2 separate regions of the Homo sapiens genome follow, and region 2 is linked to region 1. A link means that fine-mapping ties the variant in region 1 to the expression of a gene that starts in the linked region. Tissue or cell type: cerebellar hemisphere. Region 1 holds a variant in brackets; the other region holds the start of a gene. All regions are shown on one strand. Distances are from middle to middle.

Evidence for each region. PIP is the estimated chance that this variant, and not a neighbour inherited with it, causes the effect.
Region 2: it holds the start of EIF2D, and the variant in region 1 is fine-mapped to the expression of EIF2D in cerebellar hemisphere (GTEx, PIP 0.92).

The regions. Positions count from the first base shown.
Region 1 is chr1:206,582,918-206,591,020 of GRCh38, reverse strand. It overlaps RASSF5 (Ras association domain family member 5), which reads right to left. Exons shown (of 6, transcript NM_182663.4): 3 at 7,642-7,752; 4 at 6,337-6,634; 5 at 5,726-5,841; 6 at 1,573-4,195. The coding sequence ends at 4,043. It also overlaps a transcript of EIF2D not described here. Among named protein-coding and RNA genes, the nearest start is that of EIF2D, 25 kb to the left of the region's middle. RefSeq lists an enhancer at 2,422-2,922. The variant C/T (reference allele first, on the strand shown) is at 4,378.
Region 2 is chr1:206,609,075-206,617,163 of GRCh38, reverse strand. EIF2D (eukaryotic translation initiation factor 2D) reads left to right here and starts at 4,699. Exons shown (of 15, transcript NM_006893.3): 1 at 4,699-4,877; 2 at 5,790-5,980; 3 at 7,705-7,788. The coding sequence starts at 4,822. RefSeq lists a silencer at 4,437-4,646 and enhancers at 4,937-5,006, 7,417-7,476, 7,517-7,616.

The sequences.
Region 1 (8,103 bases):
TACGATCATTTTCCTGAGAGATGGACCATGCTTTCATCAAATTCCCAAAGGGATCACTTGATGCCAGAAAAGTGCAGAACCACTGCGCTGGTCCCTGCTCAGTTTATGGAATCATTTCACTGACTGGATCTCTCCTTGTATAATAGGAGGGAGAACTGGGCTAAATTCCCTGAGTTTTTGGGTTTTACCATTAAGAGACAGTTGCACTTCAGTTTACTTGTTTCTTTCTCTTCTCAGTTTTTCTCAAACTGAGATAAGAAAGGCTTAAAAATATCCACAATATCCACAAATTGCCCGTTTGAGGCTTGAAAAGGAAAAAAGGAATGGGTTTGAAAATGTGTGTGTGGCGCCTCCTACCGTCTGTTATCAGGCCCAGAATAGACCTTTTTACTCATGAGTAAACTCCTTAATTTCACTAATCCTATCTCTACCGGCATGAGCATATGAAACTAGGAAAGGGATTTCCAGAAATTGAGCCTAAACAGGATCCTGTTAAAGCCTTTGGCCTGCCAGAGTCTGATCTGAGGGATTATGATCTGTATAGTAGTAATGAACTATGGTTCCTTATGTGAATACAAGTAAAATATAGCACTGTGCAAAGTTCTTTCACAAACTTGATTTGTTTTGCACGATCTTGAAGGGAGTGGAGGCTAAGAAAGGTCATGTCCCGCCTTGTTGATCTCTGCTGAAGACACAAAGCCAGTAAGTGGTAGGGCTGGGTCTAAAATGAACATCTACCCTTAATTGTGGTTTGACCCACAATTCTGCCATGACACAGTGCTGTCCAGACCTGTGCATTGAGTGGTTTTTCCAGTAACGGTGACACATTTGCATTGAGTCATCTTCCCTCTCCCCCTGTGAACAGCATAGGGACATATTCAAAGGCAGAGTAGAGCCAGACTGTGTAACAGGTTCTTTTTCCTATGTGCTAAGTCAAATAATCTGTATCAATGTCAAACGTACAACTTTGAATTTATTAACCCTATGCTGTAACCATATGAGATTCAATGAAAAGCAGAAAGTGCTTCATTTTTGGACTTTGGCAAAATCATTGAAAGATACATTTCTTGGGGGTTTAGATGAACAAAAATGTTACAGATGTGCCCCATTCTTGGGCAGTTTTAAGGATGCTTGTTGGACATTCATTCATTCTTTGGGCCCCATGTATTGCATTCTATGTGATCAATACTGGAAGGCAGCAAGAATTTCTTTTTAATAATTTAATGTGGTTATTTCCATGATTACTGAGATGTTCCTTTGATGAAAGTCAGAGAACTCAAGTGAAAGGACTGTTTGTTTTGGTCATTTGATCTAGCCCCCTTCCTCCAGGTGAAGTGATCTTAAACTTTTAAAGATCTATTCCTTTCTACCTTATTTTTAAATAATTCCAGAAGTAGAAGAATCATGGCTCAGCTCAGTAGCCTGTCCTGGTGTCAAATCACCCTTAGCTCCAGAAGGCCCTTCTCTTTCCCACACATCAGCATCTCTGCCTGCAATCAGTCTCCTTGACTCTCTTGCACTGCGGAGACATGGAACAGCTGGTCACCCAGGCAGCGCCCTCCCGCCTACGCATTTGGACAATTTTTCCCAAATTATTTGAACAGTAGCCTTCATTTCTCTGCTCACTGGCAAAAGAAAATCTGACTCCACCAGGAAGCATGTGATCATGTCCATTCTCACCCTCTCTCCCCCGCTCCCAGTGTCCGTAAGATGGTGAAGTTCAAGGGAGACGTTTCTAACATGAGTCATTTTTGCAACAGGCTTTTATTACTTTTTTTTAAAACCCATATAAGAAAGACATTTAAAAAGAAAATATCCTGGAAACAAACACTTACACACTGAGCAACACAACCAAAGAAGGCACTACCAGCAGTTACTCCCACCTCTGGGAGGGAACGGGTACTCGATACTATACTTTTTTCAGAGGTTTAGACCTCAGCATAGGCCTTGGGTCTAACTGTGCTTTAGTAAAGTCTGAATTGTCCAATAATTTTCTCATTTCATAAACACCCTTATCTCTTTATATATAGCTATATGCCTTTATGTGTATATATACATGACTTTTTTTTTCCTTCTCAAAAATAAAATAGCCATCCCCATAGAGGGAGGTTCTCAGCAGCATTCACAGCGGTTGCAGCAGGAGCCATGCCTTCTATTAATGTTAGAGACATGCAGGACGAAGGAAAATGACTCTCCACCTGCTCCCTTTAATATACAGCAGGGAGAGAGTTTCTAAAGGGAGGGAAGTGATAAGGCTGAGCATGAGATGGCTAACCAGGGTTTTTGTGGTTTAAAAAAATCTTAGAGTTGCGAGCTTGTGTTGCCTTTGAAGCTCTGGAGACTATGCACAGTTCATACGACGAGGGGTCAGCATTCCTTCTGGGATCAGGGGCAGTATGGACTCAGCCTGGGTCAGAGAGGGAACTTCTGAAGCTACACGAACAAGCTTGGGCTTGAACCGACCCAAGAGGGACTTGGGAAGGCAGAGGATAGCAAAGAAATGGTTTCTCAGAGGCTGGGTTGGAAAACCAGCCCTGCTTTGAAAATTACAAGTCCTTCTCCCTCTGCACTGGAGTGTCTCTGCAGTCCTGGCTACTTGTTGGAATTTTTTGACTAATTTATTTTAGGATTCAGCCTAAACAAGAAGCCAGTGCAAATGTAAGTCAGGAATTTGATCCTCCCTGTCAATGTGGTCTGGTATCACTGATTGGAGTCAAAACTCAGGCACCCAGATGGGAGGGAGGTCTGTGACCCTCAACCCATACTGAACGCGGGCTCTCCTGGCCTTGTCTCCCACACCGCCGCCATTGTTCACTTCCTGGCAGGAGAAGCCAGCAGCAGAGCTTCAGGCAAACTCGCCCTACTCCTATTTCTCTCTGAAAACAAAAAGGCACTGAGGTCGACGGGGAGGCCAGGCCCACCGGCTCTCCGAGCGCAGTGCCGGGTCTGGCCCATGCTTCAAAACAGAAAGGACTCCAAGTTGGCCGAATTGGAGGCTCCCCTCTCTGTAATCAAGGCAACTCCTTGGGCAGCACCTGGAGATCCCAGAGTCGCAGTGGGAGGAGGGAGGCAGTGCTGGAGGCCGATGGGGAACCCAAGTAGCCCAGGCCCTCCTCTGCTCTTTAGCTGGGGAAGGCTGAAGACAGCTTGGACACCTTTCTCTGCATTGCTTTTTGGCTTTCTCTTACTGTCTGATTTCCATACTTAGCAGGAGACTTTTTAAATGGTCAATGACTGGCTTCCCTTTGGGGAAACACATGACGATGATGACAACATTAAATTCAAATTTGTAACTTAAAAACGAACAGTTTGTTGACAAAGATGTGACTAAGTACCACACATACGCAGATATATGCCTTTGGGTTTCCATGTGCAATGTGGGCCAGGGCCAGAGCCAGGGCCAGGGCAGGCTGCAGCTTCTCTGGAGATCTCTGAGCCAGCCTCAGCTTTGGTGCTCCTTACCCTGAGCATCTGGGGCCAGTAGCTTTATAAACTTCCCTTAAGTGTGAACAACAGGCACCTTGGGGCCGCGGGAACAGTCCTTTTATGAGCATTACCCTGCTTTCAGGGGCTTAGCTCAGACCTGCAAAAGGAATGTGCTACAACTTTTCACTCATAAATAATGGTCCTGTACGTGGCAAGTAAGAGAACTCAAAGAGGAATCAATGCCAGAGAAAGAACACACAGCTCTAAAACCTTTCTTCCTTCCTTTGCCGGCTGGTGTGAGGTTCCAGTTTGGTGACGAGAGAGGCAACTATTTGGTTGGTGAAAGGCTTGCAGATCGAGAGAGGACGTCAGCTGTTTGTTTCACATGAGTTCTGATCCTTGGCAGAATCTGTGGTGGGGCACAGCCTGGGGGCGGGCACAGCTGAACCCTCGTGCAAACACTTGTCCATGGAAGAGACTTTTGCCACAGCTGGAACTGCTGGGCAGGCACAAATGCACCTGCCAGAGATGTCCTGAGAAAAAGTGTCTGTTGCAAAATAATAATTAATAATACAAATAAATCTGAATGCACCAGGAGGAGAGGAAGCAGGACCGGTTACCCAGGTTTGCCCTGGGATTCTCTTAAGGCCTCCTCCAGTTTCTGCCTAAACTTGTCATACTTCTTTTGCACTTGTTGGATTTTGTCCTGCTCCTCTTTTTCCAGGATTGTTAGGAAGTTCTGAAGTTCAGGGATGGAGAAGGCATCCCACTGTGAGGCGAGAGGGAGATTTGTGGGAAGAAACAGAATAGGAGACAGGTTAGAAGTTGACACGACCTGAGAGACCCTGCTGCCTTCCCCTTCCCAGTTCACATCCGTGATTCACACACAGTTTGCTACTGAACAGACTGAATCAGCGAAGCCTGGGCTTTGCATGCCTGTCATAGCAGCAA[C/T]AAAATTCCAAATGCTGGCATCTCATGACCAAGAGTTGCCAGTCTATGAACCATGTTTTTATTTTGAAACTCAATAATCTTAAGTTTCTGTGTAGCAGCCGAGATCTTGACAGTGATGCTGGAACCACCCAGCCTCCCAACATGCAGACCCTCAGAAAGCAGGTGGAGGAGTGGAACGTGGACTCAGGAGACCGGGGTTGGGCCTGACTCCACCTCTCCCAGCAGTGTGACCTCGAGCACAGCTTTCCACCCTTCTCAGCCTGTTATCTGCTGGGAAATTGGGGTATCTACCTCCCATGACTGGCAGAGCAGATAATGAGAGCCTGACTGGCCCAGGCCTACCCCTAAAGGACTTGGCCTCTGATGGCAGAAGGCAATTTGGACTTCCATCAGGCTGACCCAAGAGCACAAGCCCTGTGCGGCCAACAATTGAGACTCCTAAGCTCTTTGAGCACAATAGAGTACTAAGGTTTATCTGGTTTGGTCCTCGCTATGGATAAGTGAGAAACCTCAAGTCCACACAGGGAAGGTGGCGTAATCACAATCACAGAGCTCATTGCAGCAGAACTGGAACTAGAGCCCAGGTCTCCACACTTCAAAGTGCCTGAGCTTTCCACAGGGCCAGCAGCATTCAGCTACTGTCCATGGAGTACTTTTTCCAAACATATTCTGCACAGATGCCAATAAAGAAAGCAGATGGGAGCAGAGCGGCCCTTGCTGAAATGGGGAGAAGGGACAGAGTCCCAGCTGCCTTGATCCCTAAATCTCCGCAGTGACTCCCAAAACTCCTTAAAACTCTAGGCCTCCACTGAACACAGTGTGACAAACACTGAGACCTTCCCCTGTTGGTCATTCTCAGGCCATGGGTGGCACCGGCCTGGTTTTACTCCAGTTTATGCCACAAGACTACACACTGGTTAGCTCCCCTTGGGGGATGGAGGTCAAGAAAAGGGAGGACAAATGGCTCAAAAACGTCTATACCCAGTGGAGCCCAGAGATGGAGCTTGGTAGCCCTCGGGCCATTTTGAAGCAAAAACAGCCTGTGCCTGAGCACAGGGAGTTTCTTGGTCCCCCTCCTCCCTGAGTTTTCAGAAATAAAGCACATGAAATCCTTTCTTTCCACAGGCCTTGCCACACACAGGCCCTAATGTGCTACCCCAGGGTGTTCAGAGTCCTGGCTGAAACACTGACCCCCAGGCCCATCACCCACCCCTGCTCACTCTCTCAACAGTCACCTTCCTGCCCGTGCTGCGTGGCTCCCACCTATGTGAGGTAGTTAGGACAACACCCACCTGCACCCACCCAGGGTGCCCTAAGGCCTGGGTTTGCACAATGGGTCCAGACCTACCTCTACCTCTCCAGTTTCATTCTCCTTTAGCACAAAGCTGAGGACCTCCGTGTCAGGCCCAGCAAGCAGGCGCAGGTAGAGGGGGCGGTCAGCAATGGAGAGTTTCTGGAAGAGCACTGCAAACCAAGAGAGGGTGCTGGGAGCTCTTCCCAGAAAAGAAGGGCGGGGCCCAGGCTTGCGGGAAAGGATTGGAAATGCAGAGGTGGGGTACGTACAACTGGAAGTAGACACGGGCCTTTTAATGAAATGAACATGACAGTAATGAACAGGGCAATAACCTTTTATCTTGGGTGTCTGCTCAGAGTTTAAAGCATGATTCCATTCACATCATCTCCTGAAAGATTAGGAATGGTGGGGCAGATTCCTCCCATTGCACAGATCAGGAAATGGGAGCCTAGGGTGTGGTTTTCCTGAAGTCACATGCAGAGTCAGGGACTCTGCTCTTGCCTCCCTGCCCGGATTCCACAGATCTGAACACCACATGGGCAGCTGGACCCCTGGTGCTCAGGAGAAGCCCACAGCTCCCACCCAAGGCCGGCAGGAGTTTTAGTGGGTGGGCTTGGACACAGGTAGGAAGGGAACGGTCTGGTTGGGTTCACTCTTTCTCCTACCTTGTCCGTCCTTGTGTATCCGCTTAAAAAGTGCAAACTTCTGGGGATTGTCCACAACCATGAACTTCTTGAGCAGCCCCTGGATGACCTCACTGACGGTGGTGGTGCTGCTGATGTGCAGCTGCTTGATGGCATCTAGGGGCAGGTAGAAGGATGTCCGCTTGTCCGTGGTAGCCGCCAGGTTCACCTCCTTGATGGCATCATAGATGGACTGGGGCCGGATCCCAGCAGGCACCGTCACAGGCCGCCGGAGTTTCAGATGCACTTTGATGAAACCCGTGTAGGTGCCGTCTTCACTCTGCCAGCGGGGGCATGTCACAGGGGGTCAGGGCCGTCCGCCTTGCATGATCATATCTGCCACTCGGGGCCATTGCCCCAGCAGCACCCACCTGTCTCCTTGAGTTCTTTCCTGCCTCTGCTGACGTGGGAGAGCTGGAGGAAGGAGCAGAGATCCCTTTCCCCATAGTGGGCTGGGAGAAGACCCTCAGGATCCAGCTACCAAAGAGGACCTGTGGGGCTGCAGTGGATTTCCCTCCCAGGAGGCTCAGGCCAGCTCCCTAAACCTCCTGTAACCAGTTGCCTTTGGTGAGTGCCCATTGTAAGAGGCAGGGTGTGGGGTAGCCACTCTAGTTTGTACCTCTGAACCAGGCAGGAAGCAGGAAGGCTCTATAATGAGGGCCTTGGAGAACCAGCCCACTAGATTTCCTCCTGTATCTCTTTACTAAGAAACAGCCTTTAAGACTTAAACCTAGGTGCATTTGTGACTGGATTTTCTGGTGCTCCATCTGGCTGAACCCCAAAGAGCCAGCTGATGCCAGCCACCAGCAGGGGGCAGTGTTTTTCTACCTTCTCCCCTCCCTATTGAAGACAGCCTTTCCCAACTGGGTGCTAAGTTGGGTGCCCTCCCCTCTCTGAGAGAGTATGTCCCTCTCTCACAATCGAAGGGGTAGGAAGGGGAGCAACTAAGTCCCATTGTCCTGGCTCCCTGGAGGCCAAGCAATACTGGGCCCTTGGTCATTACGTACCGTTTAATCACTTAGTTTACACTGAAGCTCAGAGGAGGAGTTAAAAGAGCTTCCCAAAATCACAAGCAAAAAATGAGAGTCAGATCTATTTCCCTAAAGCACATGGAGGCCACTGAGGGCTCTGGCTATCAGCCTTCCAGACCCCGGAGGCCTCTGGAGGCCGGAGGAAAGGGAGGGGACCTGCCAGGGAGTAGCCACAGAATTCAGAGTGAGGGCAGAGGCGCCAAACCCGAAGCGGGTGGTGGAGCAGGGGCCAGGTTGAGGGTGGACGGGCGCTTACCAGTTTCATGCCCAGGCAGTTCTTCTCTCGCGTGTTGTAGCTGTCGATCTTCTGCTTGATCTCCTGCAGTGTGGGCGGGCGCTGTGTCTCCTCCACAGGTTTACAGACATTCTGGAAGAGACACAGAAGTGGAGGTGGATGTGTAGTAGTTCTCAGGGTGAGAAAGGGAACAACCACGCCCTCCCCAAAGCCTCTCTAACCAAGAAGTGAGCATCCAGCCCTGCAGAGTGGAACTAACTGCACGGACTCGGAGTGAGACAATGAGAGGTCAAATTGCAGCTGTGCCAGTGTCTAGCCAGCCCTCCTGGAGAAGTAACTCAGATTTCTCTAAGCCTCAGTCTCCTCATCTGTGAAATGGGAACAATACCTACTGCACAGGCTTGTCTTGAGATTAGTGTGAAAGCGTCTGGCACTCAGGCACTGACTATGAATCTGGTGAATGAGCAGAGCCGCATTTGCTTA
Region 2 (8,089 bases), 26 kb before region 1:
AGGCTGTGAGTTATGAATCAAGGCTTATTTATTTGCGTATTATAATCAATGAGCCTATATTGACATATCATTATCACTGCAAGTTCATAGTTTACATTATGGTTCATTAGGTGTCGTACATTCTGTGGGTCTGGACAAATGTATAATGACATGTACCCACTACTGTAGTGTCATACAGAAGCATTTCACTGCCCTAAAATCCTCTGTGCTCTACCTGTTCATCTTTCCCTCCCCCACGGATCTCTTTACTATCTCCATAGTTTTGCCTTTTCCAGAATGTTGTTGGGGTGATCAGACCCAACACCAGGTCGTGGGGGCGACGAAGTCCAGCAGAGTCAAAAGAATGAGAAAAAGACAGTTTGAGAGAGAAAGTGGGACCAGGGGACCATCGTGAGTGTGGAGGCTGCCAAGGCCCCGATTTCTGGGCGTCCATGGCTGCTTATTGGTGCTCAAACAAACAAACAGGTGGTGAAGATGTGGGGGTTGACAGGAAACAGTGTATCAAGTGAATGGCTGCTTGAAATAATGGGTGTGCTAGAAGCAAGGAGCCAGCAAGTCTAGCAGACATGGAAGCCCTGCCTCAGCTGCTCTCCCAACACTCAGCTTTTCTCCCAACATGTGCTCTACCTGTTCATCTTTCCCTCCCCCACAGATCTCTTTATTATCTCCAAAGTTTTGCCTTTTCCAGAATGTTATATAGTTGGAACCATCACTTACATACTATCAGTATGATCTTTTTCAGATTGGCTTCTTTCACTTAATATAATAATACACATTTAAGATTCCTTCATGTTCTCTCTCACTTCTCTCTTCTCTCTCCTTTCTTTCAGACTGAGTCTCACTCTATCGCCCAGGCTAGAGTGCAGTGGCACAATCTCAGCTCACTGCAACCTCCACCTCTGGGTTCAAGCAATTCTCGTGCCTCACCCTCCCAAGTAGCTGGGATTACAGGTGCCCACCACCACGTGTGGCTGATTTTTGTATTTTTTAGTAGAGATGGGGTTTCACCACGTTGGCTAGGCTGGTCTCGAACTCCTGACCTCAAGTGATCTGCCCACCTTGGCCTCCCAAAGTGCTGGGATTACAGGCGTGAGCCACTGCGCCTGGCTCCTGCATGTCTTTTAATGGCTTGATAGCTCATTTCTTGTTAGTGGTGAAGAATATTTCATCATCTGCATGTACCACAGTTTATTTATCCATTCACCTACCAAAGAACATCTTGTTTGCTTCCATGTCTTGTCAATTCTGGGTAAAGCTACTATAAATGACTATGTGTAGGTTTTTGTGTGGATATACATTTTCAACTCATTTATATAAATTCCAAGGAGAGTGATTGCTGGATTATATGGTAAAAGCATGCTTAGTTTTGTGGTAGTTTTTGTTTTGTTTTGTTTTACATTTAGATCTTTATCTGGAATTTCTTTTTATGAAAATATGAGGTAAACTTTCCTCCTAAATGGATAGGCATTTGTCCTGACATCATTTATTGCATCCATTTTTTCCTAGTGGTTGGAAAGCATCATCCACAGACTAAATCATGCAAGGTAACTGTGTGAGCCTGGACAAGTTAGTTAACATCTCTGTACTCCAGGTTTCTCACCTGGCAAAGGGGTTAACAATAACTGCTTACAGCATTGGTATGAAGGTAACATGAGGCAATGGGCATGGACACATTTGAAAAAGTAAAAATCCCGTATCCCTGAATCATCTGTATATGGGTGAAGATAACATGACTCTTTCTGAGGCTGTGAACACACTTGCTCATCTGAAAAGCCATCCAGATCCATCAAAGAATTCTCAAACCATTGGTCACATTTGAAATGTAGATGCCAATGATCCATATTTTCAGGGGATTTGCGTGTGGGCTTCAGTAGAAGGGAAGAGAAGGCTAGTGAAGGAGTAACTAGTAGGTAGCCATGGATGAATTATCAGTTTGGGTACCCTGTGGTCCTATAGACTTCAAGAGGACATAAATACCACTTGTTAGACTGTGAGTTCCTTGAGGGCAGAGTGCTTGTGTCGAATTTGTCTTAAAAATCACAGAGCCTGATTAGAAAGCTTCCAGTTAAGTTTCAATGAATTAAACTAAATTTTCTCCATTAGGACTCACTGGGAAGAGAAGAAAAAGGAAGTCTAAGGAAAATGGAATCTCTCATCTGGCCTACCCTTGCTTCCAAATACTTGGTACTCTTGTAAAGAATCCAATTTACAGCCAGTTGCTATCAAGTATAATTAGTGAAAACGATCCTTTTTCTCAGTAAATGGCAGCTTTCTTGGTATAGTTGCCCTGTGCCTTGCTGCAACTTGGCAGCTCAGACCCACCAGTGGGGAACAGTCTGGGAGCCCTGTGGGGTGGCTCTGGAGCTGCTGATGGAAGGCACAGGAATCAGGGCTTGCTGAACTTAAGGTTCAGGCTGCTTTCCCTGCAATAGGGTCAGCCAGCAGGGAGCAGGCAGGTCTGTGATGCAAGCAGAGAAGGTGGGATTGTGCCCACTGGGGAAGGGGGCTCTTGCTCTACCAAAGAGGAGGCTGGATGCCATGGTGCAGAATCCTCTGGGGTCTTGGCTCCTACTTGTCAACCACTAATTAATTTTTAGGTTTACAATTGATGTTTTCTTATCCAAGGACATCTGGTATACAAAAGTTCCCCTAGCTTAAAATGTTTAGTATTCTCTGAATAGCTTTCCTCTGTTCCCTAAGAAAGAGGCTTCCTCAGCAGCTGTGCTGCAAAAGACCCCAAATGTATTGCACATCCGAAGAGTGGCTAAGTGGGAGGTGAAGGGTGGGTACAGGGGTCTGTTGTAGGCACTGTCCTCCTCTGGGCTCCTTTGACATTGGCCTGGTGGCTGGGATACTTCAGAATAAAGGCCTAGTGGGTCACAGGTTTAGGAGGAGTTGGGGCTGGTCCCTAGGCCACTATAGGTGGTGGGCAAACATTGTAGAAGGCCTAATGTTTAGAAAGCCAGTGTGGAATTCTCCTTTGTGCAACTGCGTCACTGAATCAATTGGGATTTTTTATTGGTGAATGGACACTTGGAAGTTTTAATATGCAAAACATAATTTACTTTTATTACTTAAATTGCTTAATGTAATTTTAATATGCAAGACTTAATTTACGAAGAGCCAGGATTCCGGGTGTTTAAATCCTTGTCTCCAGGGAACACAGCTGTCCCTTTGAGGAAAACCTAATTTCTCTTCCCTGCCTGTGTGACTTTGGGACAAATCTGGGACAACAGTGAATTCTCTATTACTGTTATTACCACCCAAGTAAACTAAAAATCCGGGATGAGAAAAATCTTACAGAAAATTCTAGCTGAGGCTTCTAGCTTATAGTACAATGAATAGACCTTAATCATAGAATGCCTTTAAGAAAAACATTTAGGCCCGACTTGGTGGTTCACACCTGTCCTGTAATCCCACCACTTTGGGAGGCCGAGGCGGACAGATCTCTTGACCTCAGGAGTTTGAGACCAGCCTGGGCAACAAGGTGAGATCCTGTCTCTACAAAAAATACAAAAATTAGCCTGGTGTGGTGGTGCCCGCCTGTAGTCCCAGCTACTCGGGAGGCTGAAGCGGATGGATCGCTTGAGCCCGGGAGGTGGAGGCTGCATTGAGCTGAGATTGCGCCACTGCACTCCAGCCTGGGTGACACAGCGAGACCCTGTCTCCAAGTAAACAAAATAAAATAAAATAAAGAAAAATATTCAAAAAGCCCTCGAGGTTTTTTTGTTTGTTTGTTTGATTTTTTTGATACGGAGTCTTACTCTGTTGTCCAAGGTGGGGTGCAGTGGCACAATCTCGGCTCACGGCAACCTCTGCCTCCTGGGCTCAAGCGATCCTACCGCCTTAGCCTCCCCAGGCATGCGCCACCACACCCGGCTGAATTTTTCTTTTTTCTTTTCTTTTTTTTTTTTTTTTGAGACGGACTTTCACTCTTGTTGCCCAGGCTGGAGTGCAATTGTGCAATCTCGGCTCACCACAACCTCTGCCTCCCGGGTTCAAGCAATTCTCCTGCCTCAGCCTCCCGAGTAGCTGGGATTACAGGCATGCTCCACCATGCCCGGCTAATTTTGTATTTTTAGTACAGACAGGGTTTCTCCATGTTGATCAGGCTGGTCTCGAACTCCCGACCTCAGGTGATCCGCCCACCTCGGCCTCCCAATTCTTTTTCTTTCTTTCTTTCTTTCTTTTTTTTTTTTTTTTTTTTTTTTTTTATTTTGTATTTTTTATGGAGATGGGGTTTCGCCATGTTGCCCAGGCTGGTCTCGAACTTCTGGGCTTAAGCGGTCCGCCCGCCTCGGCCTCCCAAAGTCTGGGATAACAGGCTTGGGCCACCGCGCCCGGCCGAAGCCTGAACTGTTTATCAGTTCAATTATTTTTGCGGAATTGAACCGAACCGAATGGAATGGGAGCTTGCAGAGAGCTTCTACTCAAAGCAGTTCCTAAGGTTGATGGGGTGGAAGGAAATAAACAGAACAGCTATTGGCGTGGCCGAGTCGCTACGGACGGGGAACCCGAGCCGCTCGCGCAGGCGCAGAGCCAGGCCCGCGAGGGGATGGGAAGGTGGGGGGGAGGGGCGTTCCCTGGGCCCTGCCCCTCCCTGCCCTGCTTTAGTTCCAGGTACCGCCACTGGGGGCGGCCGCGGCCTCCCCAGCGGCAACGGCCACGAAGCTGCGCGGCCCTGGTTTCCAGCCGGGCCCTTTTCGCGGCCGGGCCCCAGCATGGCTGCCCCCACGGCTGAGGGCCTGGCAGCTGCTGCGCCCTCGCTTTCTTGACATTCCCTGGCTTCTGTGCTCTCTTCCCCAGGCCACCCCAGCAGACATGTTTGCCAAGGCCTTTCGGGTCAAGTCCAACACGGCCATCAAGGGGTCGGACAGGTGAGGGAGGAAAGGGGCCTGCTCTGCCACGGAACAACCAGACACCTCTTGGGCCCCGCTGGCCCATAGCCCTCGCTATTCTTGGCCGACATCCTCGGGTGGAGGCCGAGGGGTATGCCAGGGAAGGGACCCCAGGAGGCAAGGGTGGGTTAGACACATTTTGAGGTGAGGATGGAGGGGGACCTGGCTCTCTTTTGGATAGTCTAGTGAGTTTAAAAGAAAACGTAGTTAAGTCAGAGTTTACTGACTGCAGACTATTTAAGGTGTTGTGGAGAATGCAGAAGTGAAGGAATACAGAATTCTTGCCCTCCAAAGAGCTTAATGCCCCTTGGGAGAGATCGGATGGGATACCAAGAATTAAAAGTATAAGAGAAAAAAATGACTAGTGATTAATTCTGGCAGGAGAGACAGCTGGAAACTGAGGTGGGAGGGAATAAGGCACATGTGGTAAGAAGAACTGTATCTGTTCAGACAGGGTCACAAATGGAGATTGTGTTTGGAATTTTGTAACCAGTGCTTTATAGTTGTCTATAGGTCTCATGGCATAGTTATTTAATCATAAACTGGCATATTTGCGAAGCATGTATGAGAAAGGAGTGGGCCCAAGGGCTAGGCATGAAGTCAGGAAGGCAGGGCTGTTTCCTGTGTCAGGCTAACTTGGATTGTTCACTGGGCCTGTTTTCCCACCCATAAAATGGGAAGGCATACCCCAGGAATGAGTGAAAATAGATGACAATGGATGAAAAAGAGTTTAGGATGTTTCAGAAGAGTGTGTGTGAGACTAGGACATCATAAACCAGGCAATCTTTCTTTGGCCCTTGTGATTTTATAGTGAGCACTTTTGAGTTCGTTCTTGATATTTATTAAAAGTCTGTCCAGGCAGCATTCACAGTGCTGGTGTGCTTTCCACAGGAGAAAGCTTCGAGCTGATGTGACAACTGCTTTCCCCACCCTTGGAACTGATCAAGTCTCTGAGTTAGTACCTGGAAAGGAGGAGCTCAACATTGTGAAGTTGTATGCTCACAAAGGGGATGCAGTGACTGTGTACGTGAGTGGTGGTAACCCCATCCTCTTTGAACTGGAGAAAAATCTGTATCCAACAGGTATGACAACAGGACGAAGATGGCCATTACCATTAGGTAGTTCTTGCCTAACATCTGCTTCTCTCTGTTTCTTCCATTGTCTCCCATAAAATAAGCAAGCACGAAATCTCCCAATACCATCCCCAAGGATCTTTATGGACCTGGTGTTCCTAGAATTGGGTCTTTCAATTCTAGGATGCAAAAGGTTTTCTCTTATGCAAAACCACTATAGGAGGGATTAAAAAAAGGGCTGACATAGTAAGTAAGGGTGGTTGCAAAGGGAAGTTCTGAGATGAAGGAACAGTGGCTGAGAAGTTTACAGTGGGTTGACTAGGAATAGAGCAGAGGTCTTGAAAAGGATGGAATTTCAGGGCATGTCTTCATGAGACAGAGTCTTGCTCTGTTGCCCAGGCTGGAGTGCAGTGGCGCAATCTCAGCTCACTGCAAGCTCCGCCTCCTGGGTTCACACCATTCTCTTGCCTCAGCCTCCCGAGTAGCAGGAACTACAGGCACCCGCCACCACACCTTGCTAATTTTTTGCATTTTTTAGTAGAGACGGGATTTCACCATGTTAGCCAGGATGATCTTGATCTCCTGACCTCATGATCCGCCCGCCTCGGCCTCCCAAAGTGCTGGAATTACAGACGTGAGCCACCGCGCCTGGCCAAAAATATATATATTTTTTAGAGACAAGGTCTTACTCTGTCACCCAGGCTGAAGTGCAGTGGTGTGATCGTAGCTAACTGTAACCTCAACCTCCTGTGCTTAAGGGATCCTCCCACCTCAGCCTCCTGTGTAGCTGGGACTACAGGCATATGCCACCATGTCTGGCTACGTTTAAAATTTTTGGTAGAGACAAGGTCTCACTATGTTGCTCGGGCTGGTCTTGAACTCTTGAGCTCAAGTGATTTTCCTGCCTCAGTCTCCCGAAGTGTTGGGATTACAGGCATGAGCAGGGTGCCCAGCCTAAAAAATGTTTCTTAAAACTATCTGTAGCAGGATTTTCCTAAAATACTGAAAAGATATACTGTGATAGGAATAAAGCTGGATTGATAAGCTACATATCCAGCTGTTTTCATGGTGTACTTTAACCATAGGTCTCACAGGGATTTTTTAGGCTATGAGTGGCTCTCTAGGATTCTTTGCCTTCTCTGTCACAAATCTCAGGGACTCAGTCTCCTTTTCTCTTTTCCATAGCTGCTGACACCTACTTTGTAACTTGGGGCTTTTCATCCTCCAGGGTTGTCTGCAATAGTGCAATGCAATATCCTTAGGCCACTCCTGCCCCTGATCTCACTTCCTTGCTGTACCTGAAGACAACCACAATGCTTTTTGACCTAGGGGTTTTTGCTGCTAATCACTATGGAAACAGAGGGGATAAAAATGATAAACATGGGAAAGTTTCCAAATTTTATACAGCTGGCTTCCTGTTCTTAGGCTACTTGCTTCTGAAGCCGTAAATAAAAGCTTCATTGGTTCTCTGCCCTCACTTTTTTGTCCACTGTGACCATTTTCTGCTGCTGCAATCCGGATGCCTCCAAATCTCAAGTGACACTCAGTTTCTTAGGTTTTTTCCTTCCTCAAAAATGAAACCTCTCTGGGCATCCCCTTACAACCTTCTCTTTAGCTTTGAGTTGAGTTTCTTTCCTGTATTCTAATTAAAGTGACCATAGTGTTAGGTTTTTCCATTTCTCTAGAAGATTGGCTTTTTGGTAGTAGTGTTTTCTGGATCTCTTTTTGTACAGTGTACACGCTGTGGTCCTATCCTGATCTTCTGCCAACCTTTACAACATGGCCTCTGGTGCTCGAGAAACTGGTAGGGGGAGCAGGTAAGAGGATTCTCCTATATTCTGGCTATTGGCTGAAACCTACTTAGCAAAAGCCAACTGATGTAATAAACTTACCCATTTCCTGTGTTTTTGTGGTTGAAAAATGGAATTTTTTCCCCTATGTGTTTTATGTTTCTCACTTGGCTGGTTCCACACAAGATCTCTGGGCCCCTCTGGCCCTGTTGTAAGGCTTAAATAAGTGTTGTGAAAGTATTTTATGAACCACCATGTGCTATACTGTAAATCAATAAGCTGAATTTAGGAAACTAGGACAAGACAGATCATGTTATAGGCTACTCAA